2 linked regions of the Homo sapiens genome follow. The protein of the gene in region 1 purifies or fractionates together with the protein of each later gene. This does not show direct contact. Each region holds a gene or a part of one and is shown on either strand. Other genes may lie near its edges.

The links. The genes of interacting proteins can lie anywhere in the genome.
Region 2: the proteins of SRGAP1 (region 1) and ARHGEF19 purify together in Homo sapiens (affinity purification with mass spectrometry; one large-scale study listed by BioGRID and IntAct). This does not show direct contact.

Annotation. Positions count from the first base shown.
Region 1 is NC_000012.12:63,847,700-63,851,199, forward strand, and holds part of SRGAP1 (SLIT-ROBO Rho GTPase-activating protein 1), read left to right. Parts: intron 1-3,500. UniProt on the Homo sapiens protein: GTPase-activating protein for RhoA and Cdc42 small GTPases. Together with CDC42 seems to be involved in the pathway mediating the repulsive signaling of Robo and Slit proteins in neuronal migration.
Region 2 is NC_000001.11:16,197,354-16,200,003, forward strand, and holds the end of ARHGEF19 (rho guanine nucleotide exchange factor 19), read right to left. Parts: intron 1,902-2,650; coding exon 1,797-1,901; intron 1,392-1,796; coding exon 1,234-1,391; 3' UTR 501-1,233; downstream 1-500. UniProt on the Homo sapiens protein: Acts as a guanine nucleotide exchange factor (GEF) for RhoA GTPase.

The DNA.
Region 1 (3,500 bases):
TGCGCCACTGCACTCCAGCCTGGCTGACAGAGTGAGACTCTGTCTCAAGAAAAACACAATGAATAAACATACATATTGGACTCTATAGGTGACTTAGGTGTGTGGGTGATTTCAAGAGTCATTTTGATTATATGTATTTTTTTTTCTACCTTCTAACTTAGAACCTAACACTCTAGAATATTTTCCCCTGTTACTCTCTCCCATTTTCCCTAATAACAACTTTATTTATCTCAGAATTTTTGAGATAATGTTTTGACCTAAAGGAATGACTTCAGATATGGAATTTTTTTATTCTTTAATTTTTATTTTATATATATATATATATAAAAGGAGTATCGGTCTGCTGCCCAGGCCAGAGTGCAGTGGCGTGGTCTCGGCTCAGTGCAACCTCCACCTCCTGGGTTCAAGTGATTCTCCTGCCTCAGCCTCTGGAGTAGTTGGAATTATATACACGCACCACCACGCCCAGTTAATTTTTGTATTTTTAGTAGAGATGGGGTTTCGACATGTTGGCCAGGCTGGTCTCGAACTCCTGACCTCAGGTGATCCACCTGCCTCTGCCTCCACCTCCCAAAGTGCTGGGATTACAGGCATGAGCCACTGCACCCGGCCCAGATATGGAATTTTGCCACTGTGGCTGCCTGCACAGGTTTTGGGAACAGACTTCATGGGGCTATTCTTAACTGTGAAAAGAACCATTCCTGGTGATAATTCGTAATTTTATGTATAAGATCATAGATGTATCTAGTTGTGTGTATCATTTTGGGCAAGTCACTTAGCCTTTCTCTGGGTTTCGGTTTTCTTATCTATAAGATAAGGAGTTGGAATTCTCTTCATCTTAAGTGTCTTTTTTTTTTCTTTTTGAGACAGAGTCTCACTCTGTCACCCAAGCTGGAGTGCAGTGACACGATCTCTGCTCTCTGAAGCCTCTGCCTTCCGGTTTCAAGTGATTCTCATGCCTCAGCCTCCTGAGTAGCTGGAAATACAAGCGTGCACCACCATGCCTGACTAATTTTTGTAATCCTAAGTGTCTTTGAATCTAATTGAAGATGTCATATCAGTTCATATTAATTGCCTCATAAAATTTTCAAGCTTTTAAAGTTTTCAGTTGGCTGCTCTGTTTTGTGGAGAATCATTTTTGCTTTCACTTTTTTTTCATAAGTTCATGGACAGTGTATAAATTGAGTTTTTGGAGAATTAAAATAGAATACAATAAAGAATACAGAAAAAACAGTAATCAAAACCACATGCAGAGAAATGTAGCACAGAATTGTAAGACAGAAGAATCAGGAATGATACAAGTGGTTAAACAGTGGATAGGTTTAAATGGGGGACAAAAGGGGACCCCAGGCAACAGTTTTAAAGAATGAATTGAACATTTCATGCCTCTTGGTCAAATTCTCAAAGACTTAGAATTAAGAGAAATAAATCTCTTGTTTGAATAGGCCATTAGAAAGCAAGCATGTCTGGAAAAGTGTATGAAACCCAAACCAGTTGACTATGCTATTTGTTAGCATCTCTGGCAAATAGCGTAGCAGTGGAAGGGATTGAATAATTGGCTAGCAGAAGGTTTTGAATTATCTGTGGACTTTAGTGATCTATGTAATTCTTGTATTCTGCAGCAAAAATATTGTGGAGCTACACATATGGGAACAATAAAGACTCATAAAGACATGTTTTATGAAGTGGAACTTATAGATGAGAGGCTGTGTTTGTTTTTAATAATGCATGTTGCTAGTTGCTAAGAATTGACAGTTATTATTTGTAGTATTTTCCTAGAGATAGCACCATATTTATCTACATGGAATATGTACAGGGAGTGCCAAGAAAATCTGTTGTTCTTTGACCACTCTGCAGCCTGACATACAAATAATACATTTTAGTAGCAGATGGAACATGAGGAAATGCCAATTTGATTTGGTATGGCCCTGCATCATGCCATAGCAATATGGAACCTGTGTCTGCATCTTACATTCTTTCTTCAACATAGAATAGGAAGTGACAGCAATTTAAGTTATGAATTAAAACTTTATAGCTGGGAGGGACTTTTAACATTTTTTCTCCAACCCACTCATTACATGATGCAGGGAGGCTTAATGACAGAGTTGCACAATTAAGACGTACCTGGGACCAGAACCCAGGTTATCTTCTTTTCAGTAGCGATAATTCACTTGTAGATTCCTCACATAGTAGATATCTAAATAGGAGATAGAACAGTTACCTATTGAGACTTTACATTCATTGAAGGAGTCATTGTTGGAACTAAGAGAGCAAGGAAACCGTCGTCTGTGAACAGGAGTTAATTACATTGATTAACTCTAACCAAGTTGTTTTTTTCACCAGGACCATTTTAAGAGACCACAATACCCAGGCAGCAGCTTCACAGGGTGGCCTTTAAGGTCTAGAAAAACAACATGGTTAATATGTACAAATATGATTTGCCTGATGTTTTGGTGAAGCTGATTGCGCTACTGCAACAAGGCCTTTACAGTGCCCTGAAAACCCGGTTAGTTTCATGAACTTCAGAATATATTAAGGGATAGTTTTGGAGAAAATTTTGAGCAAAGCATGACCTTCTGAAACACATGAGGGCTGGATTATAATACAGGGTAGTAAATCTCAGCTCTGACAATCTATATTGGTTTGTTTACTCCTGTGCTATGTTGACCAGTTTAGGAGCCAGACAGCTTCAAGTCTGTTCTAGGTTTTAGAGTCTTTGTAAATTGGCCAATTTTTTTTTTTTTTTCTTCAAGACAGGATCTTGCTTTGTCACCCAGGCTGCAGTGCAGTGGGTGAACAAGGCTCACTGCAGCCTTGACCTCCTGGGCTCAAGCGATTCTTCTGCCTCAGCACCCCAAGTAGCTGGGAATATAGGTACACACCACCATACCTGGCTATTTTTTTTTTTTTTTTTTGTAAAGATAGGGTTTCGCCATGTTGCCCAGACTGGTCTCAAACTCCTGAGCTCCTGCCTCAGCCTCCCAAAGTGCTGGGATAATTGGCATGAGCCACCATGCCCGGCCAAGGAGAGACAGCTTAAAAAATTTTATTCATGCTACCTATTTTCACTTCAATTCAAACAACTAACAAAATAAAGAAAAGGGAATAAATTGTTTGTCTAATTAGTCTATTTATGCTTTAGCAGTTTGAAGGCAGAATTTTGGATTAGAGGATGGGCATGGTAGCTCATACCTGTAATCAATCCTAGCACTTTGGGAGGCCGAGGCGGGTGGATTGCTTGAGCCCAGGAGTTTGAGACCAGCCTTGGCAACATGGTGAAATCTCGTCTCTACTAAAAACACAAAAATTAGCCGGGTGTGGTAGCATGTATCTATAATCCCAGCTACTCTGGAGGCTGAGGCACAAGAATCACTTGAACCCAGAAGGCAGAGGTTGCAGTGAGCTGAGATTGTGCCACTGCACTCCAGCCTGGGCCACAGAGCGAGACTCCATCTCAGAAAAAAAGAAGTTTGGTTTAGAGACAGTTATGTAAAGGTAAT
Region 2 (2,650 bases), on another chromosome or scaffold:
AGCCAAGATTGCACCACTGCACTCCAGCTTGGGCTGAAAAATGGCCCCCAAAAGATATCCATGCCCTAGTCCTTGGAACCCGTGAATGTTACCTCATATGACAAAAAAGTGGGGGGCGGGGGCGCAGAGGGTTTTTGCAGATGTGATTTAAATTAAGGATTATGAGATGGGAAGATTATCTGGGTGGGCCTGAAATGCAATCACTTGTTTATCAGAGGGAGGCAGAGGGAAATTTGGTATAGACACACAGAGAAGGCAGTGTGACCACGGAGGCAGAGATCAGAGTGATACGGCTGCAAGTCAAGGAACACGGCAGCCACCAGCAGCGAGAAGAGGTGAGGAACCACTCTCCCCTCGAGCCCCGGGAGGGGGTACAGCCCCTGGGTGTGGGCCCAGTGCTGCTGATTTTGGACTCGGCCTCCAGAACTGTGAGAGAAGAAAATATTGTTTTAAGTCACTCAGTTTGAAGTAATTTTGTTATAGAAGCCACAGGAAACAAATAAAGAACTAATCAAATCTCTTTAATGTTTAAGCCTATTTGTATCTGATATTTTGTTACTTGCAGCCAAAAGCAGCCTAGCTGATACACAATCGTCCCCCTGCCCCCTGGTCACCCTTACAGCTCAGAGATGAACTCTAGAGAAATGCAAAGCCCCAGTTGGGAGCCAGCCGGAGACTCTCCTGGTCTTTAGCTGGGAAAATAGGACTGTGGGGGTGGGGGCAGCATCAGATGGATCACAGACTCCAAGCAAAGGCATGATAGGAGTTTATTTACAGACAAGACACAGCAACCAGCACCCACTCAGGCTCTGACCAGGGGAGGTGGTAGACAAGACCCCAGATATATATAAATATACATATAGGTCCCAGCACCATCAGCACCAGAACGTTCCCCAGCCAGGTCCCTGCCAGAAGGACCAAGAGTCAGGCAGGATTGAGGACATAGAAAGGAGAGGGCCCCAGTCTTTGCCAGGTATCAGTGATCACCTGTTATGGTCCCCATGTCAGAGGAAGAAACTATCCTTGGCCTTGAAGTGTGGACACTGAGGAGCATGAGGACGGAGAGACCCTCTGGAGGCGCCCCCATTCCTGTGTCCAGCCTGTGCCCTCAATGCCAAGGCCACAGAAGCGAAGTGCCAGCAGGAGCAGCTTGGGGAATGGAGACACTGCAGGCCCCTCCAGGACCATCCAGGAGCCAGGCATGGAGGTGGGGTCCTAGGCCATGGCTGCCCATCACACAGGAGCCTCCCCCAGTTTGCTGGTGGCACTTGTGACTCGCTTATTCTCCCGGAGGTTTCGGAGGCGGGCGCTGAGGCTGCTGATCTCTTCCACATAGGCCTGGGGCACCCACCCCTTCTCACCATCTGCCAGGCGGACCCCTTCCAGCCAGCCTAGGGACACATAGGCCAAGAACAACAGCATCAAAGGGGTACCAGGGCCAGGCCTGGAAGGGAACACCACAGCCCTGATGCAAGCTTTGTCTGCACCCTTGGGGCCAAGGTGACATCATCTCAGCATCTCTCAGCTCCAGGAAGGACCCTGTCTTGAGCTGTCTTGCAGATGAACTTCTGACCTGTTTTTCCTGATATCCTCTGAAAGGGTATTTCCCACTCTCCCCCATCACTCTCCATCCTATATCTTTACAAGCAGGAAGTTCCTCCTCTCATCTAACCTGATTCCCACATGCTGTGGCAGATCAACACTTGCAGAACCTTTCCCTGTGATATCTTAGTCATCTAGCCACCTCCTGCCCACCCAAGCCCCATCAGGGACACTTTCCCAGGAGGCCCCCTCACCGTCACTGGTCCAGGTCCTCACTGACAGGATGTCAGTCTTCTCCAAGGTCAGCTCATCTGGGTGCAGTGCCTTGTATGTCCTAACACACTGAACCTGGGGGCAATCTGACAGCCCAAGGGAGGCTCAGGGAGTCCCAAGGGCAGGATGGCAGGGGGAGGAGCATGGGTAGGGCAGGGAGGGGCAGTAGGAGGAAGTAAGGGGGTGGGAAGGTGGCCATTGAGGCTTCTATTCCTCTGCCACTGCCATGCCACAGGCCCACGTTCAAGCAGGCATACCCTCTGCCCACCCTGGCCTATCTCCTCTCCTACCCTAAACACAAGTGCAGGATTAATCCAGTCCCTCCCAGCTTCAGTTTCTGCCTCTATACCAAGGGCTGTCCCCTCCCCAGCTCAAGCCAACACCTTGCTTGTGACCTTCAGACCCCAACGTCCAACTGCCCCCAGATACCCCACAGAAAACAGTAACGGCCCTGCAATGTGCCCCTAACATCACTCTGGTGCTCCCTTTGGCCCATCCTTCCCAACTGGGATTCAAGCTGCATCGCTCCCGTTTAAAGCCCTCCAGGGCTTCCCAGTCCTCTTAGAATAAAATCCAAAGTCCTCCCTAGGCCCTACAAGGCCCTTCATGGTCTGGCATCGCCCCCTGCTATCCTCGTCTTCTCCCCTCCACTTTCCCTCCCTACTCTCCCCTCCACTTTCCCTCCCTACTTTCCCCTCCACTTTCCCTCCCTACTCGCTCACAAAGCTCCAGCCACACCAGCCTCCCTGCTGTTCCTCACTCTAAGCTCCCTCCTGCCCCAGGGCCTTTGTGCTGGCTCTTCCTTCTGCCAGATGCTCTTCCCCAGATCTTTTCG